Regions from separate parts of the Homo sapiens genome. Here region 2 is linked to region 1. The links come from fine-mapping of genetic effects on gene expression. A gene starts in region 1. The other region holds a variant in brackets. All regions are shown on one strand. Distances are between the middles of the regions. Region 1 holds the start of CD2AP (CD2 associated protein). Region 2 overlaps CD2AP (CD2 associated protein).

Evidence for each region. PIP is the estimated chance that this variant, and not a neighbour inherited with it, causes the effect.
Region 2: its variant is fine-mapped to the expression of CD2AP in lung (TOPMed, PIP 0.92).

Annotation. Positions count from the first base shown.
Region 1 is chr6:47,464,576-47,481,066 of GRCh38, forward strand. It overlaps CD2AP (CD2 associated protein), which reads left to right and starts at 13,214. Exons shown (of 18, transcript NM_012120.3): 1 at 13,214-13,673. The coding sequence starts at 13,670. CD2AP-DT (CD2AP divergent transcript) reads right to left here and starts at 13,497. Exons shown (of 1, transcript NR_187257.1): 1 at 12,668-13,497. RefSeq lists a silencer at 12,976-13,485 and an enhancer at 13,772-14,498.
Region 2 is chr6:47,623,530-47,638,549 of GRCh38, forward strand. It overlaps CD2AP (CD2 associated protein), which reads left to right. Exons shown (of 18, transcript NM_012120.3): 18 at 657-3,734. The coding sequence ends at 698. Among named protein-coding and RNA genes, the nearest start is that of ADGRF4, 68 kb to the right of the region's middle. The variant A/T (reference allele first, on the strand shown) is at 3,890.

The DNA.
Region 1 (16,491 bases):
ATGAATAGCTAGTCATTGAAGGGAAAACAAAAACAAACCTGAATTCCAATCTTACTCCATGCACACTCAAATAAAATCCATACATGTTACAACTGTAAATGTAAAAAATAAAATTACAATATGACTAGAAGTTTTACAGTTAGTGAAAATTCAGCAAGCTATACACTTAAGACTTATACTTGTGTGATTATACATTATCAGTAAAAAGTTTTAATTTTGATAAAATAATAGGTTATTTTTTAATTTTGGAGGAGAAAAGGCTTTTCAACTTTAATGAAAACTCAAAAAAAAAACCAGAAAAATTGGTAAGTTTAAATTACATGCACGTTTAAACTTTCTAAATGACATAAAAACACCATAAAACATTAAAAAAAACATCAAATTGGGAAAACATACTAGCAAAACTTTTGACAGACTATATCAGGCAGGGTGTAACCAGGAAATGAGAGATCACTCTAAACTCCTGAAACAAAGATAATCTAATAAAGGAATTGTTCTCAGAGGTGATGGAAGAGAAAAGAAGCAAAAAAGGGGTTGATAAGCCCTTTAGAAGTTATCAACAGCAGGTAGCCTCTTTGCCCCTAAACTGGAAGGAAAAAAGGAGGATGTAGTGTTCCCAGTGCCCAGAGCCCTGCTGGAGCCAAAACCAGACAGCCCTCTCTGATGGCAGCAGAAGCCATAGGGAATATGCAGTGGATGTTAGAGATGCTGCTTGAAGTAGAGGATGGGGTGGAGTGCAAACGTCCCAGCTCTTTCCTCCCTCTTGACTTCTGTATTAGTTTCCTAATTGCTGCTATAACAAATTACTACATACTAGCTGACTTGGAGCAACACAGATTTATTTTTTTACAGTTCTAGAGATCAGAAATCTGAAATGCCTCTCACTGGGATAAAAACAAGATGTCAGAACTGCATTTCTTTCCAAGGCTTTAGGGAAGAATCTATTTTCCTTGGCTTTTCCAGTTTCTTGAGGCTACCTTTCCTAGCTCCTCTTTCCTCTATTTTCAAAGGCAGCAATGGCCAGTCAAATCCTTCTCATGCTATCACCTTTTAAGTTCCCTTGTGATTACATCGGTACTACCTGGAAAACCTAGGGTAATCTCATTTTAAGGTCAGCTGATTTGCAAACATAATTCCATCTGTAACTCAATTCTCCTTTGCTATGTAATATGATGTGTTCACAGGTTTCAGGGACTGGGAAGTAGGCATCTTTGAGGGAGCTCTCCTTGTGCCTTCCATACCTTCCAGTCTCTCACCAGTGCCTCTCTTTGTCCAGATTCAACTGGAAGCCAACTGACTGGGAAAGGAGTCTGCAAGGGCCAGTGCTCCACACCCCAACTCTCGTCCCACACAAACCCAGGGGAAAGACAGGAATGGATCTAAGAGCAGATGGGTACCTGGAAAAATAACTAATATCCCTAGAATAAAGAGTTCTTAGAAATCACCGAGAAAATTATAACAAAAAAGACAAATGAGCCAAGGATATGTGCTGGCAGGCTGGCAATTTTTAGGCAAACATATGAAAATAGTATACATATGTAAAGATTCTCAACCTCCGTAATCTAAATTGAAACAACGAGCTATAATTTTTTTGTATCCTATGGGCTAAACTCAAAAGATTGTTAATATCCAGTTTTGATGACAGTATAGACTATTGAAAACAGTAACTGGTGAAACATTTTTGGAAGGCAATTTGGCAAAATATAATCAAAATGTAAATGTTTTTGGCTTTTGATTTAGTAATTCCACTTTTTTTTTTTTTTTTTAAAAGATATTGAGCAAGGCTCTGTCACCCAGGCTGGAGTGCTGTGGCACTATCCTAGTTCCTTGCAGCTTTGAATTCCTGGGCTCAAGCAATCCTCCCACCTCAGCCTCCCAAGTAGATGGAATTACAAGCCACAGGTCACTGATTCTGGCCTGACACAGACTAGACACTTGATGCTTAATTCACTTAACATATGACTTGATCCGTATACAAACCACTGAAGAAGGATTCCTTCAGCTCCTCCACTGACCTCTTTCTCTCTCTCCTCCTCCTCCTCCTTCCTTTTAAACAAAGGAAGAAATCACAGCTCAAGGAGTGAATTGACCTAAGATAGGCTGGAGCCTCAGCTATGGAATTAGCCCTGAATTCTCACAGGCTCTGCTTCTTAATGGTTATGTGACCTTAGGCAAGTTAATTAACTAGTCTCAGCTTCCTGCTCTTTAAATAGGGTGATAATACTACCACTCGTAGCATTGTAATGAAGGTCATGTCAGATGAGGTGTATGAAGTGTCTAGGTCCATGCTTGAGACTTAAAATGGTCAGATGGTGTTAGCTGTTATTGACATTGTTGTCATTGCTAACATTGTCAAACTAGAAATAGTATTACCTCCTTCACTAATTTGTCTTAAGGAGTACATTGAGATTTGTGTACTGTGAGAAAGCTTTGTCACCTTACCATGGTCTCAGTAAGGCCCAACATTATTCTGTGAAAATATATTTGGCAGTGAGGGAGGTAATCAAAGAGGTTACCTTTGTAGCGTTTACAAAACCAGTTAAACTGGATTGATAATCTAAGGATGGTGTTAAAGAGTAAGGAAAGACATAGTGTAAGATAGAGAAAAAGGATAAGAAAGGACAAAGTGAAAAAAGGATGAAGATTACAGCCTAGGAAATGGAAAGGGAAAAATGTAGCCCAAGTGTAACATTGTAAGTCCAAATCAGAGATATAACTATTGAGGGGCAAAAAGAGGGCATGGACCATTTCAAAGAAGCAATTCCACACAGAAGAAGGTTGGCAGAGTGTGCAGGGGACTATTTAGGATGCATCAGTTCCCTGGTTATGAAGTGGAAGTATTGGTATAGGCCTCGGGGGTAAGGAGGTTGAAGTGCACTCTAATTTACTTGATATTTAAATAAATGTGAGACAAGGCAGATGATGGCTGGGGAGGTATGGGGAGACAGGGAGGTTGAGACTTGCTTATGAACCGCATATAGAATGTGATGCAGGTGGCCGGGCGCGGTGGCTCACCCCTGTAATCCCAGCACTTTGGGAGGCCGAGGCGCACGGATCACGAGGTCAGGAGATCCAGACCATCTTGGCTAACACGGTGAAACCCCGTCTCTACTAAAAATACAAAAAATTAGCCGGGCGCGGTGGCGGGCGCCTGTAATCCCAGCTACTCGGGAGGCTGAGGCAGGAGAATGGCATGAACCCGGGAGGCGGAGCTTGCAGTGAGCCGAGATAGCGCCACTGCAGTCCGGCCTGGGAGAAGGAGCGAGACTCCGTCTCTCTAAAAAAAAAAAAAAAAAAAGAGAATGTGATGCAGTTATGGGAGTGTTGAGACCTGGCCTGGAAACCTAAGAACAAAATGTGAATAAGGAATAAGCAGAGAGAAACATCTCGGTGTATGAGACTCTTTTGCTTTGGCAGGCATTTAATTTTGGGCACCAAGATAATGTCAGAACACGTAGCATAAAAGCTCCAGTACCAGATGGGATATAGCCCTTATTGTAATCTGTGCAGTTTAGGAAGTTAGACTGGGATATGAAATAAAATTTCCATTTATTATTTTGGAAATAATGTATGGCTAGGGCCAGGAATAAGTCCTTACTTATCAATAATAACATTGAATGTAAATGTACTAAACTCTCTAATCAAAAGACATAGATAGTGGCTAAATGGATATAAAAAAACAAGACCCAGTGAACTATATCTACAAGAAACATAATTCATGTATAAAGACACACATAGACTGAAAATAAAGGGATGGAAAAAGATATTCCATCCCAAGGGAGCCAAAAAAGAGCAGGAAAAGCTATACTTATACTAGACAAAATAGATTTCAAGACAAAGTCCACAAAAAGAGAAAAAGATGGTCATGATATAATGATAAAAAAGGTGAATTCAGCAAGAGGATATAACAATTGTATATATATATGCACTCAACACTGCAGCATGCAGATATAGAAAGCAAATAATATTAGAGCTAAAGAGAGATAGACCCCAATACAATAATAGCTGGAGATTTCAACACCCAACTTTCAGCATTGGTGAGATCATCCAGACAGAAAATCAACAAAGAAACGTTGAACTTAATCTGGACTATAGGCCAAATGAATCTAATAGATAGTTACAGAATATTTTATCCAACAGCTGAAGAATACACATTCTTCTCTTTAGCACATGGCTTATTCTCAAAAACAGACCATATGTTAAGCCACAAAACAAGTCTTAAAAAATTCAAAAAATTGAAATCATATCAAGTATCTTTTCTGACCACAGTGGAGCAAAACTAGAAATCAATAACAAAAGGAACTTTGGAAACTATACAATCACGTGGAAATTAAACAATATGCTCCTAAATAACCAGTGGGTCAGTAAAAACTCTAAGAAGCAAATTAAAAACTGTCTTGAAACAAATGAAAATGGAAACAAGACATATCAAAATCTATGGGATACAGCAAAAGCAGTACTAAAAGGAACATTTTTACCAATAAGCGCCTACATCAAAAAAGTAGAAAAAATCAAATAAATGATCTAACAATGCATTTTTATAAACTAGAAAAGCAAGAGCAAACCAAACCCAAAATTAGTGAAGAAAAGAAACAATGAAGATCAGAGCGGAGATAAATGAAATTAAAATTTAAAAAAAATGAAAAAAGTTGTTTTCTAAAAAGATAAATTGAGAAACTCTTAGCCAGACTAAGAAAAAAGAGACAAGACCCTGATAAATAAATTCAGAGATGAAAAAGGATACATTACAACTGTTACTGCAGAAATTCAAAGGATCATTAGGGGCTACCATGGGCAACTATATGCCAATAAATTGGAAAACCTAGAAGACTTGGGCAAATTTCTAGACACCTACAACCTACTAAGATTGAAGCTTATGAAATTCAAAACCTGAATAGGGCAATAACAAGTAACAAGATTGAAGCCATAATAAAGAATCTCCCAGCCAAGAAAGTCCAAGATCCAATGTCCTCACTGGTGAATTTCACCAAATATTTAAAGAAGAACGAATACCAATGCTTCTCAAACTATTCCAAAAAATAGAGAAGGAGGGAATACTTCCAAACTTATTCTATAAAACCAATACTATCCTGATACCAAAACCAGACAAGGACACATCAAGAAAAGAAAACTACAGGTCAATATTTCTGATGAATATTCATGTGAAAATCCTCAATAAAATACTAGCAAACAGAATCCAACAGCACATTAAAAACAGCATTCATCATGACCATGTGGGATTTATCCCAGATATGCAAAGATGGTTCAACATAAGTAAATAAATCAATGTGATTCATCATATAAGCAGAATGAAGGACAAAAACTATATGATAATTTTAACTGATGCCTAAAAACCATTTGATAAAATTCAACATTATGATAAAAACCCCCCAAAAAACTGGGTATAGAAGGAACATACCTCAACACCATAAAAGCCATGTATGACAGACTCACAGCTAGTATCATACTGAATGGGGAAAAACTGATGAGAGGAAAAAATGGCCTTTCCTGTAAGATCTGGAACAAGAAAAAGATGTCCACATTCACAACTGTTGTTCAACATGGTGCTGGAAGTTCTATCTACAGCAATCAGGCAAGAGAAGGGAATAAAGGGCACCCGAATTGGAAAGGAAGAAGTCAAATTATCTTTGCATGCAGAAGATATAATTTTATATTTGGAAAAACCTAAAGACGCCACCAAAAAACTATTAGAACTGATAATCAAATTCAGTAAAGTTGCAGGATACAAAATCAACATACAAAAATCAGTAGCATTTCTATATGCCAACAGCAAACAATCTAAAAAAGAAATCAAGAAAGTAATCCCATTTATAATAACTACATATAAAATAATATATTTGGGAATTAACCAAAGAAGTGGAAGTTCTCTACAATCAAAACCATAAAATACTGATGAAAGAAACTGAAGAAGACACACACATACACACACAAACACACACACACACACACAAATAGAAAGATATTCCATGTTCATGGATTGGAAGAATCAATATTGTTAAAATGTCCACACCACCCAAAGTAATGTACAAATTTAATGCAGTTCCTATCAAAACACCAATGACATTCTTCACAGAAATGGAGAAAACAATCATAAAATTAATATGGAACCACAAAAGACCCAGAATATCCAAAGCTATCCTGAGCAAAAAAGAACGAAACTGGAGGCATTACGTTATGCAACTTCAAATTATACTACAGAGCTGTGCTAACCAAAACAGCAGGGTACTGGCATAAAAACAGACACATAGACCAGTGGAACAGAATAGAGAACATAGAAATTAATCCATACATCTACAGTGAACTCATTTTCAACAAAGGTGCCAAGAACATACTTTGGGGAAAGAATGGTTTCTTCAATAAATGGTGCTGGGAAAACTGGATACCCATATGTAGAAGAATGAAACTAGATCCCATCTGTTGTGATACACAAAAATCAAATCAAAATGGAGTAAAGATTTAAATTTCTAAGACCTGAACCTATGAAACTACTAAAAGAAAATATTGGGGGAAACTCTTTAGGACATTGGACTGGGCAAAGATTTCTTGATTAGTACCCTCACAAGCACAGGAAACCAAAGCAAAAGTGGCAAATGGGATTACATCATGTTAAAGAGTGTCTGCACAGCAAAGGAAACAATCAACGAAGTGAAGAGGCAACCTACAGAATGGGAGAAAATATTTGCAAACTATCTGCCTGACAAGGGATAAATAACTACAGTACATAAAGAGCTTAAATAACTCTATAGGAGAAATTTAATAATTTGATTAAAAATGGGCAAAAGATCTGAATAGACATTTCTCAAAAGGAGATATAAAAATGGCAAACAGGAGGCCAGGTGCAGTGGCTCACGCCTGCAACCCCAGCACTTTGGGAGGCCAAGGCAGGCGGATCACCTGAGGTTGGGATTTCGAGACCAGCCTGACCAATGTGAAGAAACCCTGTTTCTACTAAAAATACAAAAATTAGCTGGGCATGGTGGCGCATGCCTGTAATCCCAGCTACTTGGGAGGCTGAGGCAGGAAAATTGGTTGAACCTGGGAGGCGGAGGTTGTGGTGAGCCAAGATTATGCCATTGCACTCCAGCCTGGGCAACAAGAGCAAAACCCCGTCTCAAAAAAAAAAAAAAATGGCAAACAGGTATATGAAAATATGCTCAACATCATTGATCATCAGAGAAATACAAATGAAAACTACAGTGAGATATCATCTCTCCCCAGTTAAAATGGCTTTTATCTAAAAGACAAGTAATAACAAATGCTGGTGAGAATGTGGAGAAAAGAGAACCTTTGTACACTGTTGGTGGGAATGTAAATTAGTATAGCCACTATGGAGAACAGTTTTGGAGGTTCCTCATAAAACTAAAAATAGAACCACCATAATATGATCCAGCAATTCTACTGCTAAGCGTATACCCAAAAGAAAGGAAATCTTATATCAAAGAGATATCTGTCCTCTCATGTTTATTGCAGCACTACTCACAATAGCCAATATTTGGAATCAACCTAAGTGTCCATCAACAGATGAATGGATAAAGAAAATGTGGTACATATACACAATGGAGTACTATTCATTCATAGAAAAGAATGGAATCCTGTCATCTGCAAAAACATGAATGGAACTGGAAGTCATATGTTAAGTGAATTAAGCCAGGAACAGAAAGACAAACTTTGCATGTTCTCACTTATTTGTGGGAGGTAAAAAATTTAAAACAATTGAACTCACAGAGTGTAGAATGATGGTTAGAAGAGGCTGGGCAGGGGTGGGGAGAATGGGAATGGTTAATGGGTGCAAAAATATAGTTAGATAGAATGAGTATGATTAAATAGAATAACAGGGAGAGCACAGTCAACAATAATTTATTACACATCTTAAGATAGCTAAAATAATATAATTGAATTGTTTGCAACACAAAGAATGGATAAATGCTTGAGGTGATGGATATCCCATTTACCCTGATGTGATTATTATGCATTGTATGGCTGTATAAAAATATCTCATGTACCCCATAAATCTATACACCTACTATGTACCCACAAAAATTAAAAATTTCTATAGCATAAAATTTTGCAGAGATTCAAATAAGAATACTACAAATTAATTATTAAATTGAAAATTTCCCCAGTTTATTTGTCTGTGCCATGTTGATTCGAAATGCAGGTTCTCCTCAATAAGGTACATTTTATTTAAATAAGTGCAAGTTGAAATAGTTAGGTATATCTTTGCCTTCTTAGCTGGAAATCACATTCCTTGAAGGCAGAGTTTGTGTTTGCTGCAATGAATCTTTCACAGTGTCCAGCATATGAAATCCCTTGTATCTTATATTAGTTTAAACATTTATTGTATTAGTAAAAAAACATATTTACTAATTATTTGAGGGTAGTGGGTGCTTAATCAATGCTTATTTAACCAAATTTTTTTGTACCTAATTTTTTGTGACTTGTGTGCATTTTTTTTATGACCGTGGATGTAGCTGGAAAAGCAAATCAGTTGCCTACTTAAAATACTTCATTAATTGCCTCTTACTTCTAGAACAAGACGTCAAATTACTTCCCTGGCACACAGTGCTCTCCATATTTGAGTGTGGTCTCAGAGCCTGGCCCCTCAAAGACATCCTAGCCTTTTTTTTTTTTTTTTTTGAGATGGAGTCTTACTCTGCCACCCAGGCTGGAGTGCAGTGGCATGATCTTGGCTCACTGCAACCTCTGCTTCCCGGGTTCAAGTGATTCTCCTGCCTCAGCCTCCCAAGTAGCTGGGATTACAGGCACCCACCACCATGCCTGGCTAATTTTTGTATTTTTAGTAGAGATAGGGTTTCGCCATGTTGACCAGGCTGGTCTTGAACTCCTGACCTCAGGTGATCTGCCCGCCTTGGCCTCCCAAAGTATTGGGATTACAGGCGTGAACTACCACGCCCATCCTGGGCTTTGGATTGTATACCTGCCTATTGTCCTGGCTACCTGACTACCCTTCCTTGTCCTTACTGAGAATTCCAATGTACCCTCGAGAGACTCCCCAATCCTTTCTCTTTTAAGGGCAAGGACTTTATTTCTATCTCTATATTTATCATCCAGAAGCTGCTCATTTGTAATGGGTGATCAGAAAAACATCTGTTGAGTTGAATAAATGTGTACTTGTGACTGGAAATTATTTACATAATACCATGTGTATAATTTAACTGCCTGATATTTGAAAATGCAAATGTATTTGTTATTTGAGATTACTTAAAATATGTGACCCTTCAAAAGGAGCTAGCTTTAATATTTGGGAGGAGTAATGCTTCTTGAAAGATATTCCCTTTAAAGGCCTATGAGTCTCCTATGACTTGCCTATCAAATGCCAGCTTTATGACACTAGCATCTGAATAAAGTGCAAATAACACCATTAAAAAGGTCCTTGCAGTTGGCAAGTGGTGATTCATTTAGATGGGTCATCATGTTTTTAATTAACTCTTTCTTAGTATGCAATAATGAAAAGTGCTTAGAGTGGTCATAGGCCTGAGGACATCCCCCAAGTTGCTAGTCGAGGAACAGTATTTTGTTGCAAGCTGAATGGGCCACCAGTTTGAGCAGGGGGATTTTTCAGCTTCAATGATCTCACAGTATAGGCATTCTGATTGAGGTTATTATTTCCTACAATTGTTTTCTAAAGAATGATTTTTAAAATGCAGATTATACATTGATGTAATTTGGGCTTAAGTTTACAGTAAATTAGCCAGGCCAAAACAAGGTAGCAGTAAGAAAACTTCCCAGGAAACCTAGTACTTTTGAATGAGAATAAAGAAAAAATAATTAGTCACAAGATTTTAGCTAAATGAGTGCTTTAAAAATAATATAATTTAGTTAACACTTATTTTTCTTTAGCATAATCTTCTTGGTTATAATAGTTTTTACCAAAAGGAAAGAAGGCAGATGCTTTTTTAAAATATAGATATCTTCAGATAAATTCCTAAGAAAACTTCAGGAAGAAATCATGGCAGTTTAGCATGAATTACGTTGGTCTGAAATTGTGTCATTCACACAGAACTGTAGTGCTCTCCTTGATATCAGATCAACATGTTTAGTACTTGGCAGAAAAAAAGAAAGTGAATGATTAGAGTGGTGTTAGTCCATTTGTACTGGAATACAAAGAAGAATAAGGACAGATGGACAGAAACAAACCTAATCCAGTATAAAGGTAACAATAAAATAAAGGGAAAAGTAAAAGATAATTTGTTTTTAGATTAAAGGAATTTAAATTTAATATATGTGGTAAGTAGAAATTATCTTCTCACCATATTTTCTCTCATTCAACTAATAATTATTGCCAGGGAACGCAATGTTTTGAGCTGCAGACGGTGGTAGCCATATAAAAACGTATAAAACATACTGCCATACCTTGAAGGCCTCTTATAGCTGAGAAGGTAAGATTTAAAGGATGAAAAGAGCTTAAAGGAATAATTAATAACTAATATTTGCATAGCATTCAAAAGTTTAGAAGGTATTTTTACATACCATTTTGTAAGTTTAAAAGTAAATTGCTAGATTTCATTCTTCTGTTAGAATTTCCTTTGGCTTTGTCTTTGGAAAACAACATTAAATTTGGGATTGCGATTACTTCTTAGATTTACTTCAGTTTTCTCAACCATTCTTAGGGGTTCTATTCCCTGATCCTTCCAATTTCTATGATTTGTCATCTCATCATTACCTCAATGGATAATGCCTCTGAATTTGCAAAGTGAATTTAACTTTTAAACTTGTAAAATACGTACATTAATTATGGCAATAACTGATGCTAGAATTTTTTTTTTTTTTTTTTTTGAGACAGGGTCTCACTCTGTCATCCAGGCTGGGTGGAGTGCAGTGGCAGGATCACAGTTCACTGCAGCCTCGACGGCCCTGGACTCAGGTGATCCTCTCACTTCCGCCTCCCAAGTAGTTGAGACCGCAGGCCTGTGCCACCATACCTGGGCTAATTTTTGTATTTTTTTTTTTTTTTTTTTTGTAGAGATGGAGTCTTGCTATGTTGCCCAGGCTGGTCTCAAACTCCTGGGTTCAAGTGCTCCTCCTCCCTTGGCCTCCCAAATTGCTGGGATTACAAGTGTGAAGATCCTGGAATTTCTAGGACATAAATGATTGTAAATGTTTTATCTTGTTGTCAGATCATGTGACCTGACTTCTCAGAAAATATCTACCTTATCTGTGGCCTCCACTTCCTTATCATTCAATTGATAAAACCTTTAATCTGAATTTTCTATTATATATATATTCTGAATATGTAGTTATATATTATATATTCTATTATATATATTCTGAAATTATATTTTCAAAGATGCCCTTATTATCAAATCTGATAGTCTTTATTCCCCCTTCTGTTTTACTTAACTTCTTTTCCATTCTATTCATTGGCCTTTCTTCTTTAAATATTAAGGATTCTAGAGACCTAGAAATTTAGTCTCTAGAAACTTAAGGGCTCTGGGCCTTGAATTTACTACCTATGTATGTGCTTCCAATAGCTTATATTTTTGTCTCCTTTCATGAATCCTTCTTAGCCCATCACCAGCCTCATTCTTCCAAATCGTAAATGGCCTTCCTTATGGGCTGCTTGAGCCACACACATTTCTTAAAGGCTCAGAAATACTCTGTTTGCATATCCACTTCCATTCCTCAGTTCTAGGACTCCTCCAGACTGAATTATTGCCTTCCCCAAGCTTTCGTTCAACTCATACCTTCTCTTTACAGCTTGCTTTGCCCACAGTAATTTATTTTCCTTTAAATTCTCAAGCATTTGACCCTCACTACCTCATACTGTTAATTAACTTTGTGTTCGTATCTCACCCCCCTAGAAGAATGCAAAATCTCTGAGGATTAGCGCTGTACTTTAGCTTTTTATTTTTTTGCTTGGTAGGGGACAACGAACATAATGCTGAACACATATTTGTTACCTAAAAAAGGCACATGTTCCATGATGTCAATGTAATCTTGTTTAGGTGAGTATATTCAACTTTTTTCTTTTATCCTTTTTGGCTGCTGTTTGTGAGTTTGATCATTCTTGTTATAAAATTACCACATGTAACCTTTTGAGAAGCATTAGAAGAATTAAAAGATGGCAAAAGCAGGCCTATAGGAAATAGTGGTAATGGATACGTCCAAGGTTACTACTATGGGCCACTGTGCTCTGCATTGCAAGATTTGTTTGAACATACTCAAGAAATTGAAGTTCAGACAGGTTAATTTATCCAAGGTCCCACAAAAAGTAAATGGCTGTGCTGAGTTTCAAGGACCCATGTCTGCCTGGATCCAAAGGGCAAGTCAGTTTCAGTGCTGGATGACTGAGAATTACAAAATTTCTTGAAAAAGCACTAGGCACAATAGTTGGCGTTCAACAAACGCTCACACACACATCTGCCCTGGAATTGGGTCTACTTAAACAGAAGGGGGAAAAAAAGCTTGCTGAAATAATTATACTTCTTCGTAACTACCAAGCTCATGTTTGACTGACTATAGTAATCCTATGCCCTCCTTCACATTGACGCTAGAAAAAATGCCTGGCAGTATTTCAAATCATGATGCCTATTTTTCTCTCGATCAAGTAACAACTCAAATTATACTTTAAAAAGAAAAAAAGCAAATTATAAAGTTGCATTCAGCTGACAAGAGACTAAAGGAATCTGTGAAACAGAATTTATTTGATGCCTAGGTTTCTCCCTCACCCGACGAAGACCAAATGCTGCTGATCCGTAAGTAACTTCGCAAGGTAAACTGAGGGGCCTGGCAGCATCTGGGCCTCCCTTAAAGGTCGAAATCAAGTGCGCTCGCCCTCCTTCTGTCCGCCTTTTCCCTTTAAGGTCCTCGAGGCTGCTTCGCTGCAGAAAGTAACTCCGCGTCGCCGCCGCGGAAAGTGGGGCAACTTTGCCTATCAGCAGAAACCTTTTGATCCATCTGAGGCGACAAACCAGACCAAACGCCCGCCCAAGCTGTTCCGAGCCTCCGGGGGGAGAGCGAGCCCAAGCTCCTCTGCACCGCTTCCTCATCCGCTCGCTGCACCTGGACGCGGTCGGCGCGCGACCCCCGGCCGTGACGTCACCGCACCTGGCAGCAGCCGTGGGGACCGGGAGAGAGCCCGAACGCGACGGGGCGGGGTGGGGCGGGGAGAACGAGGGCGTTCTCGCGAGATTTGCCTCCTCCCGGTCCCAGCTCCCCGCACCTTCTCGGCCTCTGTCTGGGTCCCCACCTTAGTCTACGGTGTCGCCTTTTCTAACTGCGAGTGCTAAGGAAGAGGCGAGGGGCGGGCTCCGAGGCTAGGCGGGCGCTCGGGGTTGGAGCCGAGGGTCTGGGCAAACCGGTGGGTCCCTCCCCACTGCGGGAGCGGCCAGGGTGGGAAAACCGCGGTCGGGCGGGCGGGGTAGGGCCCTCCCGCCGCCGTGGCTCCTGGGGAGGCCAGGGGTGAGGAGCTGTCGCCGCCTTTGCCTCTGCCTCGAGGGCCGCGCTGAAGAGACTGGTAGGAGAGCGCCGCGGGCGGATGGAGGCGACTCTTCGCCCCGCCTGAGCTCAGGAGGGGCTAGCGCGGAGCGCGGGTCCCGCCTCCAGCCGCGGGAGCGGCCGCGCGAGCCACCACTGGAGGAGGAGGAGGAGGAGCGGACGTCGGCTTCTCCCCGCGGGAGCCCCCAGCATGGGTAAGAGACTCGGGCGCTTCCCGCCGCCCGTCCGGACCTTCCAGACCCGGGGAGGCTGTGCCCTTTCTCGGCCTTCTGGGGAGGCGACTGCGGTCAGCCCCTGAGCGGCAGCACCCCACCCTCTCCATTCTCCCCACCGCCCCTTCTTGCCCTGCCTTCCACCTTGCTCTTCTCACGGAGAAACTGGTGGGAGAGCTCGCGGGTGCTTTCCCTCGCTCTCCCTTCTCCGCCTCTTTTCCTGTTCACCAGAAAGGTGCGGGATGGGGGGCGGGGGCGCCTGGCCACCTCTGCTAACCCCTTGCCCAGCTAAAATCAGACCTGACCTTCCTTCCCTTCCTCATCCCCTTGCTTCCCTCCCCCTCCTCGTGGGATGGGGGAGGGCGATCGAAAAACTTGATAAAGTAGCACTTTCAACTTCTTTATTTTCTGCGAGGCTTTGAATACGTTTAAGGAGAGAGATAAATTTGTTCAAAAACTTTTTTTTTTTCCTGCTGAAACTCGCAAGGGGTGCCTCAAGGACAGGAAAGCTTGAGTATTTGTTTTACTCGGGTTCTACCTAGGCAAGTGTGTTGGCACCTAAGCATTCAGTGTGCTCCCGAGGACTGGGTTTGGACTTCAGTGTTGGATCCTTTGAGGAGCAGTTTCCTGTTTGGAGTTAGACTTCCTTGCCGGAGGAGAGAAAAATACAAGGCCTTATATGTTATTTACTATGTGCTTTATAGTTTTGTTTGAAGTTAGAGAAGGCAGAATGTGTGGCAGTCCGGGTTGAAAAGGAGTTTTGTTAAGTGGTGTAACAATTTCTTTTGATAACAAAGTTCGGTGTGGGCTAGGCATTAAACTAACTCCCTCAATCCTTTAAAAATTAAAAGCAACTTAAGAATAGCTTACAAAAAACAAAACACCCTGTGTCTCTATAAGGCAGAACGTGTTCTGTAAGAGTAAACCCAAGTTTGATTTTTGTAGAGCAAATCAGGAGGACCCTATCACTTTTTGCAGTTGAGAGTTGGTACTGCTTCATATCAACAAACGATCACCGAAATGAATAATTCATGTAATTAACAAATGATTTAGAAGCAGGACGAATACAGACTACTGCTGATGTGGCACCCTCTGTCCACACTTTGCTTTGTGGGGGATGTTTTGAGCATATTGTTTATAGACACTCGCCTAGCTATCCTCTGTTTTCTTAGACTTTTCTAATTTTATGTTCCCTTCTCCACCTCCCTCCTTTCAGGTAACTTTCATACTCAAAAGTGCTCTTGAGCTCAAAAACAGTGAAATAAAACATTTGCTATTTGGAATTTTCAAATGAATTATTTTATAATTGATTAGTTGAGCTTGCAGGGCAATTGTGGGCATATTCTTTTAAGTATGAAATTATAAAATCACTTTAACTGCTTTGGATTAAGATAATACTAAAGTTAATTACACAGTTCTTTTCTGTCTTAAATGGGATGCAGAATAAAATTAAACTACTTTGGATGACCTGGGGATGCAGTCTTGTTTTGCATATAGGGCTTTTGAGCTAAATTCTAAATAATATTTGTTCGCATTTTGAAATTATTTAAATACTTTTTTTTTTTGCTTTGCTTTTGGATGTGCTTGTAACTGATTAGTGTCCCCCATCATCTTTCCTTTTCTAATTTTTTTTTAGAAGTGTGGAAATCATATTCAGGTTTGTGATTCTGCATAGGGGAAAAATCAGTAGGCCGTTACTTAGTGTGTGAGGTCGTCTCTGGAGAAAAGTAAATGTGTACCAATACTTGGACATTGGAATACCTATTTTGATTGTCCAGAGGCTTTTTCTTTGTGATTTATTTGTTGTGTTCTGTTTAGGTGAGTTTTCATATAGACTTGGATATCAATGTTGGTATACTCTCGACTACTTAGAATGTGTTTTGAAGGTATGTTACTGAGGGCATTTGTGGTTAAGTTTTTGTAAAGTGTTTGTGAAACATTTCCATATCAATATATATATTCTTTAAGTTTATTGGTCATGTAATAATAAAATTCCCAAGTTCACTTAAAGGGAGTTTGCTCTTTAATATAAATCTCATTTATTTGGTTTTACCAGCCATCCTTTTTTCTTATGATTTTAGATGCAGCCTAAAATATTTACATGATATTTTATCTAATTTGTCACAAAATGAAAAAATCTGAAATTTTTTTTGTGTGTAAGATAATTTGGATGCCTATTAAATGGTGGTTCTTAAGTTTAGGTGGTACAGCTAGAGAGTTAAAAGCATGGGCTCTGGACAGAGACTACTTGAGGTCAAATTCTCTTCTACCTACTGGCTGTGTGACTGAGCACATTACTTCTCTGTGCTTCAGTTTCTCAATCTATAAATGGAATAAAATATCAACCTCATAGGTTGTTAGGAGGATTGAATGAGTTACTACTTGTAAAGTGCTTAGAACACTGCCAGTGCTGGCGGTGGTGATTTTCATTTTCAAATGATTTCCCTAATTCTTGTACCAACTTGGGAAAAAAAAAATCTCAATTTTTGACCTTTGTTAGAAGTAGGATATTTTCTTTAAATAAAGGACCAGAGGGATGAGATGATTTTGCACTAAGGCAGAAATTGAATTTTATGTGATATAACCTTACAGAAACCACATAGATACTTTTTTCAATGTTGGATGTACTGTGCGAAAGTCCATTATTGGTAAGAGCTTTAGTTGCTTAGGAAAAACTCTTAAGTGGGATGACTACTAGTAGACTTATTTGAAGTTTATGTTTTTAGTGTCTACATTTGTTAAATGTGATAAAATGCCTATTGAGAAGTTTGAGGTATTCTGTGTGAAAGAATTTGGGAAG
Region 2 (15,020 bases), 160 kb after region 1:
CAGTATTGAATAACTCTGTGTAGTTATTGTGCAAACTTAATGAAATGATCTCCTTCTTCATAAATTCCTTAAGTTATGAATTTCCTTCTGCCTAAAGGTGGAACTATATCAAGCACCTTGACTGAATCTTAGATATATTCCTGGGCTTTAAGATATTTAATGTAGTATATACTGGTTACAGATAAGTAAATTGAAACCAAGTCAAGTGATTTAACAATAATTATAATTATAATTAAGTATAATTAGTGAAAAACATGGAACTAAACAGGTCTCTATTCTTTTTACTGTTGTTTATGTATCCTTTGTTTAATTATAGATACATGTACATTTCTTAATTTGGTTTCAAGGATTCTTTTGTTCTTTGTAGGACTGACTGATTTTTTTACAGCTTTAATTTTAAATGCTCACATGACTTAACATTTGTTCTGGCTGAAAGGGCTATAATTGCTTTTTTCTTATTGTAACTGCCATTTAGGAACTTGCATTGTACTGTTGAAACTTTATTCAACCAAATTATAGCATGGGAAACTGGATTTTAGGTCTGGAAAAAAAGTCTGAAGGCTTGAAAGTATGATCACATCTTAATGACATAGAGTAAAATAAACTACTAAACTAAGGATATTTTATGTTTGCTCAATTTATGTTTTTTGTTTTAGATGGAAATAGAGAAGCTGAAAAAAGCTGTCCTGTCTTCTTGAGTGGTGTGGACCTGGTGTTCATAATGTTCCAGGGATTCAGAAGCAACGCTATGAACTTCAGCTGACTTGTTACTTAAAAATTGTGAATTCTGTTGTTGTGATAAATATGAGCAAATGAAGTGTAATATCTATAGAAAAGTAGAGTGAGGGTGAATTTATATATATATTTTGTTTTGCCAATATGAAGAAAAAGAGGCCTTATTTCTTAACTGTGCTGGGATTGCAAACACTTTTTAAAAAATTGTTTGCTTGAAAATACTACTGAATATAAATAAGAATGTGCACAGTAGTTTTTTTATTGAAACTTGTATTATTTTTAAAGAGATCTATACTATAAATATGGTGATATATTTACAAGTAATCTGTTAAGATATACTATTTGAGAGGGACAGATTAGCCTTTTAGTAACTATAGTCACTACTTTTTCCATAATGCATAAGGGATATAAACTCTGTGTGTGTGTGTGTGTGTGTGTGTGTGTGTGTGTGTGTGTGTATATATATATATATATTTTTACTTTTATCCTCTTACCGAAGGTTACACTGTTGTGCCTGTTTGTCTGCAATGCTGTTTATATTTTGGGTGATGAAATAGGAGTTTCCTAGCTATATAAACCAGATTACTCACCCATGCATATAGTAAGAACTAATGAATAATCAAAATAATTTCATCAACTTTTAGAATATTTTATGTTGCTTGCACTATAGGAGTCATAAAAGGAACTTAGTTAAAATATGTTGGATTGTTAAACATTTGGGGAAATATGAACTGTATTTTAAATTTGTTAGGTCTGAAGAATCTAAAACTGTTAATTTAACCCTTAACTTGTGCCTAGAAACTACAGCACATATAAAATATGTAAACACCAGCCTGTTGCTGTACTTTTCTGCTTATTTTACAGCCTCAAATATTTCTCATTATCTTGTCACTTAGTTCTTCATGTTTCTCCTTCTGACTTTTAATAATGGTAATAGGAAAACAAAACCCAAAGCTTTTCAGAACTTCAGTGTGAGGTTTCCTATTTTGACAAGTTAACTTGTAAATACTCAGGTTTTACGATGTATAATTTACCTAATAGACCAAACTAACTCATGGAGATATTTTGAACTATTATTTAGGTACAAACTTTATAAAGAATGTTAGTATGTCATAAAATATAACATTACAGCTTATTTAAAACCAAATATAGTTGAACATATTTAAAATACATTTTCACAGAATGGATGAATTAGTTGTTTCTTCAGAGTTACTTATGAACAGTTGAATGCTTTAAAATGTTCTGTCTGTAGGTAACATCTAAAACACAAGTGGGTTTATTTAAATTTTTAAAATTTGAAATTTTTTATTTGCAAAAAATTGTTTTATGCTTTATTATATCGCAAATGAGTGTCAGATTTTTGAGTACCAATGATCATGCTTCCATTTTTTTTAGTTTTAAACCACCAAACCAATATTTTTCCTTTAAATTTTAATCTTATAATATAGAAATCTTATGTAAATGAAATTTTGTCATGTTTCAAATAAAGAGAACTGAAGTAGAAAATAGAAATGCCAGTAAACAACATAATGTTTAATTTACAACTTACATTAGGGGTTTGGGGGAATGCTAATTATATATTGAGAATATACATTAGAACTCTTCAAAATGGGCTCTTCTAATGAGGTCACTACTGAACAAAATTGTTCCCTCTTCTGTTAAATAGAATAGGTTTAAATGACTAGTCAAATGAATTATTTTCTTCTTGTTAAATAAATTAAATCTTACTTTCTTTTAATGACCAACCTTAGGTAAAACAAAAATATTGTAATCCTAGAAATTATCCTCCAGCTTTCTCACCTGAAAATCTATTGAAGTGATCCCTGGTCATCCTAATAATGGGATGAGGGAAGTTTCCAGCAGATTTCAGGCTGTTCTTAAAGTTTTTGTTGGTCATTTTCTCAATAGTACATGAAATCAAGATGCTTATGAGCATGGAAATGTATTTAAAGTTTTTGCTTGTGTCCTCCTCAGTCAGAATAGAAAAGTAACTGAAATACTTTTACCTTTCTGTCCTTGATAAAATAGTAAAGAAAACCAAACAAACCCAGGCCTGATGGGAAAAATGATTCCTTTATTCTAGCAACTTACTTTCTGTTGGTATGGGAAATGTTATTAATTTCTATTACTAAAGTTCATATCACAAAATGATATTTAATAATAACCTTGGGGTAAATCATGAATTTTTTTTCTACGTGTGAGTATAAAAGACAAAAGTTGAACAGCATGGAATCTCATTGCCAAATTATTAGTGAATGTATAGTTCAGGTATTCTTTGAGACACACAGTATCATTAATTTCTGAATTGTATTTCAGTGTTATTTTTTGTTTGTGACCACTAAGCTTCTGTCTTAATACAAAGCTGTTACCTTCTACAGAATTTAAGTCTGAAGATGTAAAGAGAGAACAGGCCTTGTGTAACAGAAGATACTCTTTTTTATGCTCCTTACTGTGATCACAGAAAAATTAAAAATCCAAGTGCTCTCTAGATTTGTTGATAAACATTTTATGCTTGCATTTAAACTTGAAATGTATGAGCAGAATGAGACAATCAGTTAAATCAGAAATGAGAAGTATTATAATGTAAAGGCCTTGTTTTGCTGTAGCAATAAAATGACCAAGTGCAATGACTTGATTTAATAAAATCATATTTTAAAAGTTGCTGCTATGAATATTTTTGGCTATAAAATTTTACCCTGACTTGCTTTCAATAACTGTTACGTAATGCAGTTGATGTTGTAACCTAACATTCCAAAAAAAAAATTGAGAGGGGGAATCTCAAAATAGTATATACTTCACTAACTTGTTTACAGGTGCTGTATTTAAAAGCATGCTTCTCTCTCAAAAAGAAAAATTAAAGGATTTTATTGCCAGTCGTGTCAGTCTTTATTGGTTATTTTTTGTTAACTTTAGCATTTGTGTATTTCAGAGTATGATGAAAATTATATTACTTCAATTTCCAAATACAAGAATAAATAGTAAACCAAAAACATTAAAAATTCTAGACCCGTATGACTTTTACTGAACTTTTCTGAGTCTGGTTTTTCATCTGAAACTGAGACAGTAATTTCTACTTTACAGGATTATGGGGAGAATTTGAAATAGTTTATCTAAATGGCTTTGTAGAGTGCTTGGCATAGAGTAGGTTTTTTTT[A/T]AAAAAAAAATGGAGGCTGCTGTTTTACCTTTTTAAAAAGCATTTTACAGTGATGGATATGATAAAAATTAGATGGATAAGGTTAAGAAAAAGGAGGCATTGTGTATCCTTTCCCCCTGAATACGGTATAGTATCCTTTTCTTTGGGGAGATGCTCCTTTCATTTGTATTATATTGTTCAAAGGGGAGCTGCTACCATCTTACAGATTCTACCTCCTTGATCACCCCACCCAGGAAATCCCTTGAGAGAGTACTTGGCTCAAACTGAGTTACTGAGTTAATCAAAGAATGAAATTTTTAAAATTGGAAACAAAAAGAGCTAATCTCAGCATGGGAGCTCTCCACAGTTCTGTTTTTCTGTCATCTGGAAAAAGCTGATTTGAAAAACAAAATTTAGTAGAGCATAGATAGATGGAAACAGAATCTGGAAGGACTTTGAAACTGATTGTAGCTGTTGCTGAGTCTCAGCTGTCTATTGCTTGGTTCTATAAGCACAGACTTGCTCATAAGCTTGTTGGGTTTCTGAACTCACAACCGAAAAAGTCCTGATAAATAACAGAAAACAAGATGAAATCAGGAGAACATTAAGGTCCACATACTTTTGCTGAACATAGATCACATATAGCTTTAGAGATTCTAGTAGTGTGCTGGAAGATTTGAAACAGAAGGAATAGGACACCACTATAAAGCAATGTGGAAAATTAGTGTGTCATAAGATTTTTAAAATCTTATTTAAAAAATTTCTAGTTCTTACTGGCTTTTAGAAGCACTAGACAAAAAACTTTGGAGGCATATAATGGTAAAAGTTTTGGACTATAGAATTTGTGTTTGAAGAGTGCAGATGGTTTTGTCTGAAAATACAATTTGCAAATTTAGCCCAGTTCTAGGAAATAAAAGCAGGTAGCAGTTTAACTCACCTGGATTTATTAGGCTGTATTCTCAAGATGCAAGAGAGACTGGGTCTGGGTGTTAAAATTTTTTTTTCTGAATCCTGTTGCATTTATTTTACCACTGACACCATTTTTGTGAATCTGCTCTTCCATGTAAGGAAAATAAATTCACAAATAGATATCAGTATTTTTTGTATAGAGTCAATAGTTTTTTTCTGTCATGAAAGGTGTGGCTATTTTGCAACTATTGGATGGTATTATTTCCTATCAGGTTCCAAGTGTTTCTTACTGACTACATTTCAGTTCCCTTTAAAAGTGTGTGAATAAAGTTATTGAAAGTAAAACTACATTTTAAGTGCATTGAGAAACTTTTTTTTTTTTTTATTCCAGTCAGGGTCCTTCTCTATTACCCTGGCTAGAGTGCCGTGGTGCGACCTCAGCTAACTACAACCTCTGCCTCCTGGGCTCCAGCAATCCTCCTGCATCAGCCTCTTGAGTAGTTGGGACTACAGGTGCATGCCACCACACCCACCTAATTTTTTTTTGTTTGTTTTGTTTTTGATACTGGGTTTCACCATGTTGCCTGGGCTGGTCTTGAACTCCTGAGTTAAAGCAATCCGCGCTGCTCCCCTCGGCCTCCCAGAGTGCTTGGATTACAGGCATTAGCCACCATGCCCAATGAGTAACAATTCTTTAATAAAATCACATGTTAACTTTTCATGGTAGAGTGGATTTTTAGAGATATTCCTAAACATTAACTGAACAGAATGTAAACGATGTGACGGAGTGATGACATTTTTACTGTCTTTTCCTCCCTTGAGACTCATTAAAAACAGTAAGTACAATGAAAAAGATTTGATATTAATAGATTAAAAAGCAGATTTAAGATAAAAACATTGCTTTTCAGATGAAATAAGGAAGCTACAATTTATAATAGTAAAAATACCTTCCAAATGTTTTGGAGGGAGCAACCTGAAATCTGATATAAACTTTCCCAGACTTTGTGCCAGATGCAGATTTCTCTGAAAGGCTCATCTGATCATTGTAGGCTCAAATCCTGTACAGAAGGATAGCTGGGGAATGTGGAGCTGAAAGAGAAGCCTCACTAACTGTAAGCCCTAATAATTGGAAGTCTGAAAACCAAGGAGAAGGAGACATGCTCTTAGGGAAGACAGATGTAATGAGAGAATATTTTGGCTAACAATTTATAGCTCTTCTTCCTTGCTGTGCTATTCATCAAATAACTGACACCATGGAAACGTGAGTAATCAGACACAAGTATCTTTATGGATACCTGTGTTTTATATAACAAAAAAAAAGTTGTCCAGAAGAAAACCTTGATTAAAATCCTTTATGTCCCAGGAGGAAAAAAATGGCATGATATGTAACACCAAGACATCTGTTAAGTTATGGAACTTTAAAGAATGAATACTGACTCAAAGAAGAAGTTGAAATTTTTAATTGACTAAACACACCGTAAGTGAATTTGAAACGTATTTAAGGCTCTACAACTGAGAAAGACAGCAAGGCCAGATGATGGCTGTGTTTTAATTGGTCTTTAAGCTACTCAAACTGTAGAAAAAGATGGAAAGCCACCCAATTTATTTTATGAATCCAGCATAACTTTAAACCTGATCATCATAAACCAAATCTCACAGGGAGAGATTTCATATCAGGAAATTTATCAATCTCAATGCATGATATGAAATTATAAGAGAAAAATAAAATGTTCACTTTGATAAAAGGAAGGGGTTTCCTGTACTGGGTATGGTGGTGAAGAACACAGTAACAAAATGGTACCACTGTCTTGATGCGTGCCTAGCAGTTCTAGTCACCGTCACCACTGCGTTTACACTAGCAGTGCAAATCTCAACACAATGAGAAAAGCAACTAGCATCTTCGTATTATCATGAAAGTTGTTTTGACCTTGTGGACCACACTTTGAGAACCACTGACCTAAAATGACCTAGTATGGTCTTTAGCATGTAGTAGACAATCAGTAAATGTTTAGTGGATGAATAAGTGACAAAAGGGGAGGTATTCTCTCTACCCCTTGTCTTTACCGTCTCCTACCTTTTCTTCCTTCCTCAAATATTCAAGTATAATATCTCCTCAAGACTAACCACTATCATGCCGATTGCTATAAAACAGACATTCTTCCAGGGACTGCATTAGGCTCTTAAAATGTATTTAACAAATTTTATATACTGGACTTTAGATGGTCAGTTTACCCTACATTTTATAGTAAACTTACCTTTAAAAGTAGGCATCGCGTCAAACATAGCTAATGTTTATATTGTGCTTACCACATACCAAGTGCTATTCCAAGTAATTGCTATCTAATTTACCTGTCTATCCTATCTAATCATCTCAACAATCCTGCGTGCTAGGAGGTATTATACTCCACACACGGGAAAGAGGCTAAGGAAGGTTAAGCAACTTGGCCAAGGCCACTGAGCTAATAAGGCCTGGAGCTGAACTCAGCCCAAGAAACCGAGTTTTGAAGCCTGTGCTTTTGCTCATAAGCTTTATTGCCTCTCTACATAGATAATATATAGGAAAGAAGGAGCCTGCCTGGGGAATATTAATTTCTTCTAGTCTAGTCTTACTTCTTTCACTCTTTGTGATCCTTTATATTAAGTCTGTCAACATTTTTCCACCAGTAAGAGACTAAATGTAAAGTCTATTTTCAGGGATCTCATAGTTTTTAGATTTCTCTGTGATGTGGTCACACAAGATTTTGGGAAACGTTCTTCATTTCTTAGTGTACATCTTTGCAAACTTAAATGGTTTTCATGGCTTTTCAGCAAAAACACAATAAACAACCTTACGTAGCTTCCATAAAGAAATTAAATGGGCCAGGCACGGTGGCTCATGCCTGAAATCTCAGTACTTTGGGAGGCTGAGGTGGGAGGATTGCTTGAGCTTAGAGCCCAGTCTGGGCAATATAAGGAGACCTTGTTTCTACTAAAAACAAAACAAAAACAAAAACTAACTGGGTGTGTTGGTGTGCATCTATAGTCTCAGCTACTTGGGAGGCTGAGGCGGGAGGATCGCTTGAGCCCAGGAGGTTGAGGCTGCAGATCGCGCCACTGCACTCCAGCCTGGGCAAGAAAATGAGGCCCTGTCTTTCAAAAAAAAAGAAAAAAGGAAAAAAACAAAATTAAATGACCACTAGATGGCAGTCAAATAAAGCTCAGCTTATATGTGTCTTGAAACCATAAACAGGTAGCAGCTGCAAATAAAATCAGAGAGGGCTCCAACCTTCACCCAGAACTGGGACACAACCAACCCTACTTCCCTAGCCTGATTACTTCCCCAAGCTAAGTGCCACATGATAGGGTAAAAAGAGTTGGGGCCTTGGAATCGAACTGATCTCGCTCTGAAAACTGGCTCTAAAAATGAGTAGCTGTGTGAACTTGGCAAATCACTCAAGTCTTATCCCTTTCCTTATCTAAAGAGACATAAAAACTTTGTTTTGCCAGAATTTAAACCCTTTCCTTCTTGCCGTTTACTCAGGGAAGAGGGAGAAAGGAGGCCCTGAGTTCTGGGAGAACAAGTCAGACAGCAGCAACAAAACCATCTTGCTCTTGTTTGTCATTTCTGTTGGATGTTGACGCCTTGAGGGCTCCTTTGACCCCAGGTTGCTGCAGTGAGTCCTGAACCTTTTCTCACATGTGTTATTTGCCACTTCCTGTCCTTGATTCTCTGGTGGCACCTCCCGTTCCTCCATTTTGTCCTGCAATGTGCTCCTACCACAACCAGGCCAAAGAGAAAGCAAATCCCATTTATGGTTGCTTATGTAACCAGCTCATATAATAGTTTTGTAGTGAGCTTTGTGCTCCAGGCTTCTTAAGGAGTTTCTGGTAGGGCATCTCTGGTTTTGCCACTTCTGTCTTTTTCCTATGTGAAGTCTAGTATAATTCATATAGAGTTGGAGTCTGCCAGTACAGTCCAGAGCCAGTGGTCAGTGGAGAGAGTCTATGGTGCCACGACCATGCCTGAAAAAGTGAATCCATTTTCTGCCCAAATTCTAAGCAGGAAATGACTTTTCTCTCCAAAATGGGGTTAAAATGTCCATATTGTGGTGATGATGTGACTGTAGGGTCACAGAAGCAGAGAATAGTCCTACCCCAGAAGGAACGTGGTCACCTGAAAGACTTCAGAAGTGAAACATGCTATATAGGAGGACAGAGCAAGACAACATCACACAGATCTTTCCACTGACAAAATAGCCAGCCATCTGCAGTATGCTTTAGGGAAAAGCAAAACCTTTCATGGATATCAGTAAGTCTTGACCCAGGGCTTAGACAGTATTTTGAACAAGTGACAAAACTAGTGATTATGATTCTTAATAGTGATAAAAATCCTGGAGTATGAGAAAAACAACATAGTATACATAAAAGTATTCAGGGACCGTTTCCTTAGTCTCACCAAGATTATCACCAGTTCCATGGAGAGAGAGGGAGAAGTAGAGAATGAAATAAAATAATGTATATTCGTTTTAGTCTATTGAATTTGTGAATGTATGTGTAATGCAAAAATGCCTTTATGTTTGTTTATCTTGATCTGAACCTGTGTTCTTACTGAGGCAAGAAAAAAATTGCCATTCAAAGGCTACATTCTCATCTGGCTTATTAATTAATTGATTATTTTTTTTGTACGTGTATGAGATGGAGTCTCACTCTGTTGCCCAGGCTGGAGTGCAGTGGCATGATCTCAGCTCACTACGTCTGCCTCCCGGCTCAAGTGTTTCTTGTGCCTCAGCCTCCCAAGTAGCTAGACTATAGGCATGTGCCACCATGCCCTGCTAATTTTTGTATTTTTAGTAGAGACATGGTTTTGCAATGTTGGCCAGACTGGTCTCAAAAACTCCTGACCTCAAGTGGTCTGCCCGCATTGGCTTCCCAAAGTGCTGGGATTACAGGCATGAGCCACCATGCCCAGCTGTCATCTGGTTTAAATTATAAATCACTGCATATACAAAATAAGTAGCAATCAACATAAAATTCCCTTGGGCTGTTTCTCCTCACTCAGGGATCTGCCTTTGTTCTTAGTGTGGTGTCTGTGTGTGCAAGAAGTGGATACATCCTCTAGGGAGCAGGAGGAGACAAGACTCCGTGTTTCTGAGCCTCTTGCTCTCCTCTGCCCCTTTCCTCCCTAGTTGAGTATTGATGTGAGAAGACATCTCACCTCTTGCCTGGCCCTTGCTCTTGCTCTCTGTGTCGGAACTTCTCTTGTTCAGAACCAGAAGGGCTCTGGATTAGCTTTCTATTGCCGCTGTAATTATCACACAAATTTAGTGGTGCAAAAACAATAGACATGTATTATTTTATATGCTGGAGGTCAGAAGTCTGACATGAATCTCACTGGGCTAAAATTAAGGCTTCCAAAGGAAGCTCTAGGGGGAAAATTCCTTTCCTTGCCTTTTCCAGCTTCTTTAGGCTGCTGGCAATTCTTAGCTCATGGCCCCCTTTCCCCATTTTCAAAGCCACCTGTAGAGGGTTGAGCCCTTCTTAAACTGCAGTCCTCCATCCTTCATGCATAATCACCTCTCCCTGATTCTGTCTCCCTCTCCACTCTTAAAAACCCTTGTGATTACATTTGGCCCACCTGTCTGAAGGCTCTTAATCACATTAGCAAAATCCCTTTTGCCGTGTAAGGTAATGTATTCACAGATTCCTGGGACTAGAATGTGTGTATATATCTAGGTGGCAGTGGTGGTGGTGGGGATTATTCTGCCAGCCACAGGCTCTCTGCTTCCTGTCAGATTGAAATGTTCCTATATTCTAGCCTTCTTTTCCCTATGCTGTGGTATTCACCCTTCCCTTCTTTATGGCAGTAAAGGAAGGCTTCAGACAAAGGATTCAGCTTACCAGTGAGTGAAAGTACTTTTTAGGTGGGGGGTGTTTTAAAAAATCATCCCCAGAATAAATAGTGACTTGCCCAGGGAGTTTTGAGGGGCATTGATGAATACAGTGAAAAGGAAACACTTTACCCTGGGAATAATTCACCATTCCAACAACTAGACTCTTAAAATTAGCTAGACAACTAATTTCATGGTAGATAATGACACTGGAAAGAGGAAGATAATAAGATCCCCTGCTGATCAAATCTGAGCCTGAAGCCTATTTAGTGACTAAGATAAGAAATGAGGTTATCGACTACTTAAACAACAAAGCTGAGGAAAACTGGGTGGTGGACAAAGAAGAGAAAATATAAATTAAAAATTTGAGGGTGAATTTTAGAACTTTAGAAGTAAGTTTTCCTGATGGCTGAGAATTCAAACCAACATACTTTCCTGTCCTTGTGATAAACAATACTGGTACTGGACATTCTTTCCTGTCCCAAGTGAAATACCAAAAGCAAACAAAAATAGATTAGGTACTTGCTCTCCAGGAAATATTTGCTCTTGGAAGATAAAATTCTGAATAAAACAAAATAGCTTATTAAGGGAGAAGACTACCCCTCATATTGTCTTATGCCCAATTTCTGCCTCCAAAGAAAGAAGAAGTAAAAACTAAAAGACAGAAATGAAATCCACAGGCAGAGAGCCCAGCGCCGCACCCTGGGCCTGGTTAAAGATTGACCCCTGACCTAACTGGTTATGTTGTCTATAGATTCCAGACATTGTATGGAAAAGCACTGTGAAAATCCCTGTCCTGTTCTGTTCCATTCTGATTACCAGTGCATGCAGCCCCCAGTCACGTACCCCCTGTTTGCTCAATCAATCACGACCCTCTCACGCAAACCCCCTTAGAGTTGTAAGCCCTTAAAAGGGACAGGAATTGCTCACTCGGGCAGCTCCGTTTTTAGAGACGTGAGTCTTGCCGAAGCTCCTGGCCTAATAAAGCCCTTCCTTCTTTAACTTGGTGTCTGAGGGGTTTTGTCTGTGGCTTGTCCTGCTACATTTCTTGGTTCCCTGACCGGGAAGCGAGGTGATTAACAGACTTCGAGGCAGCCCCTTAGGAGGCTTAGGTCTGCCCTGTGGAACATCCCTGTGGGGGACTCCAGCCAGCTTGAGCAACACGAATCCTGAGAGCGCTCGCGGGTAGGCAATTGCCCTAGTGGAACAGCTCACCAGAGCAGTGCCTGGCAGGCCCCCGTGGAGGATCAACGCAGTGGCTGAACACCGGGAAGGAACTGGCACTAGGAGTCTGGACATCTGAAACTTGGTAAGACTGGTCTTCGGAACTCGCCCACTCCATTTGAGTGGAAGCGTGGCCTGATCACCCATGGCAGCCTGTACCTGCGCTTTGGTTTTTGTTTTTGACTTGACTTGGATTGCTTGATACTTGGGTTTTGGTTTTGACCTGGCTTGGATTTCTTTTTTTATTTTATTTTATTTTTTTATTATACTTTAAGTTCTACGGTACATGTACACAACGTGCAGGTTTTTTACATATGTATACATGTGCCATGTTGGTGTGCTGCACCCATTAACTCATCATTTACATTAGGTATATCTCCTAATGCTATCCCCTCCCCCGACCCTATGACAGGCCCGGTGTGTGGTGTTCCCTACCCTGTGTCCAAGTGTTCTCATTGTTCAATTCCCACCTATGAGTGACAACATACAGTGTTTGGTTTTCTGTCCTTGTGATAGTTTGCTCAGAATGATGGTTTCCAGCTTCATCCATGTCCCTACAAAGGACATGAACTCATCCTTTTTATGGCTGCATAGTATTCCATGGTGTATATGTGCCACATTTTCTTAATCCAGTCTATCATTGATGGACATTTGGCTTGGTTCCAAGTCTTTGCTATTGTGAATAGTGCCACAATAAACATAAGTGTGCATGTGTCTTTATAGCAGCATGATTTATAATCCTTTGTATATATACCCAGTAATGGGATGGCTGGGTCAAATGGTATTTCTAGTTCTAGATCTTTGAGGAATCGCCACAGTCTTCCACAATGGTTGAACTAGTTTACAATCCCACCAACAGTGCAAAAGTGTTCCGATTTCTCCACATCCTCTTCAGCACCCATTGTTTCCTGACTTTTTAATGATCTCCATTCTAACTGGTGTGAGATGGTATCTCATTGTGGTTTTGATTTGCATTTCTCTGATGGCCAGTGATGATGAGCGTTTTTTCATGTGTCTGTTGGCTGCATAAGTGTCTTCTGAGAAGTGTCTGTTCATATCCTTTGCCCACTTTTTGATGGGGTTGTTTGTTTTTTTCTTGTAAATTTGTTTAAGTTCTTTGTAGATTCTGGATATTAGCCCTTTGTCAGACAGGTAGATTGTAAAAATTTTCTCCCATTCTGTAGGTTGCCTGTTCACTCTGATGGTAGTTTCTTTTGCTGTGCAGAAGCTCTTTAGTTTAATTAGATCCCATTTGTCAATTTTGGCTTTTGTTGCCATTGCTTTTGCTGTTTTAGACAAGAAGTCCTTGCCCATGCCTATGTCCTGAATGGTATTGCCTAGGTTTTCTTCTAGGGTTTTTATGGTTTTAGGTCTGACATTTAAGTCTTTAATCCATCTTTAATTAATTTTTGCATAAGGTGTAAGGAAAGGATCCAGTTTCAGCTTTCTATATATGGCCAGCCAGTTTTCCCAGCACCATTTATTAAATAGGGAATCCTTTCCCCATTTCTTGTTTTTGTCAGGTTTGTCGAAGATCAGATGGTTGTAGATGTGTGGTATTGTTTCTGAGGGCTCTGTTCTGTTCCATTGGTCTATGTATCTGTTTTGATACCAGTACCATGCTGTTTTGGTTACTGTAGCCTTGTAGTATAGTTTGAAGGCAGGTAGTGTGATGCCTCCAGCTTTGTTCTTTTTGCTTAGGATTGTCTTGGCAAAGTGGGCTCTTTTTTAGTTCCATATGAACTTTAAAGTAGTTTTTTCCAATTCTGTGCAGAAAGTCCTTGGTAGCTTGATGGGGATGGCATCGAATCAATAAATTACCTTGGGCAGTATGGCCATTTTCATGATATTGATTCTTCCTATCCATGAGCATGGAATGTTCTTCCTTGTTTGTGTCCTCTTTTATTTCATTGAGCAGTGGTTTGTAGTTATCCTTGAAGAGGTCCTACATGTCCATTGTAAGTTGGATTCCTAGGTATTTTATTCTCTTTGAAGCAATTGTGAATGGGAGTTCACTCATGATTTGGCTCTCTGTCTGTTATTGGTGTATAGGAATGCTTGTGATTTTTACACATTGATTTTGTATCCTGAGATTTTGCTGAAGTTGCTTATCAGCTTAAGGAGATTTTGGGCTGAGATGATGGGGTTTTCTAAATATAAAATCATGTCATCTGCAAACAAGGACAATTTGACTTCCTCCTTTCCTAATTGAATACCCTTTATTTCTTTCTTCTGCCTGATTGCCCTGGCCAGAACTTCCAACACTATGTTGAATAGGAGTGGTGAGAGAGGGCATCCTTGTCTCGTACCAGTTTTCAAAGGGAATGCTTCCAGTTTTTGCCCATTCAGCATGATATTGGCTGTGGGTTTGTCATAAATAGCTCTTATTATTTTGAGATATGTCCCATCAATACCTAATTTATTTAGAGTTTTTAGCATGAAGGGCAGTTGAATTTGTCAAAGGTCTTTTCTGCATCTATTGAGATAATCATGTGGTTTGTGTCTTTGGTTCTGTTTATACTCTGGATTACATTTATTGATTTGTGTGTGTTGAACCAGCCTTGCATCCCAGGGATGAAGCCCACTTGATCATGGTGGATAAACTTTTTTATGTGCTGCAGGATTTGGTTTGCCAGTATTTTATTGAGGATTTTTGCATCGATGTTCATCAGGGATATTGGTCTAAAATTCTCTTTTTTTGTTGTGTCTGCCAGGTTTTGGTATCAGGATACTGCTGGCCTCATAAAATGAGTTAGGGAGGATTCTCTCTTTTTGTATTGATTGGAATAGTTTCAGAAGGAATGGTGCCAGCTCCTCTTTGTACCTCTAGTAGAATTCGGATGTGAATCTGTCTGGTCCTTGACTTTTTTTGGTTGGTAGGCTATTAATTATTGCCTCAATTTCAGAGCCTGTTATTGATCTATTCAGGGATTCAGCTTCTTCCTGGTTTAGTCTTGGGAGGGTGTATGTGTCCAGGAATTCATCCATTTCTTCTCGAATTTCTAGTTTATTTGCATAGAGGTGTTTATAGTATTCTCTGATGGTAGTTTGTATTTCTGTGGGATCGGTGGTGATATCCCCTTTATCATTTTTTATTGTGTCTATTTGATTCTTCTCTCTTTTCTTCTTTATTAGTCTTGCTAGCAGTCTAT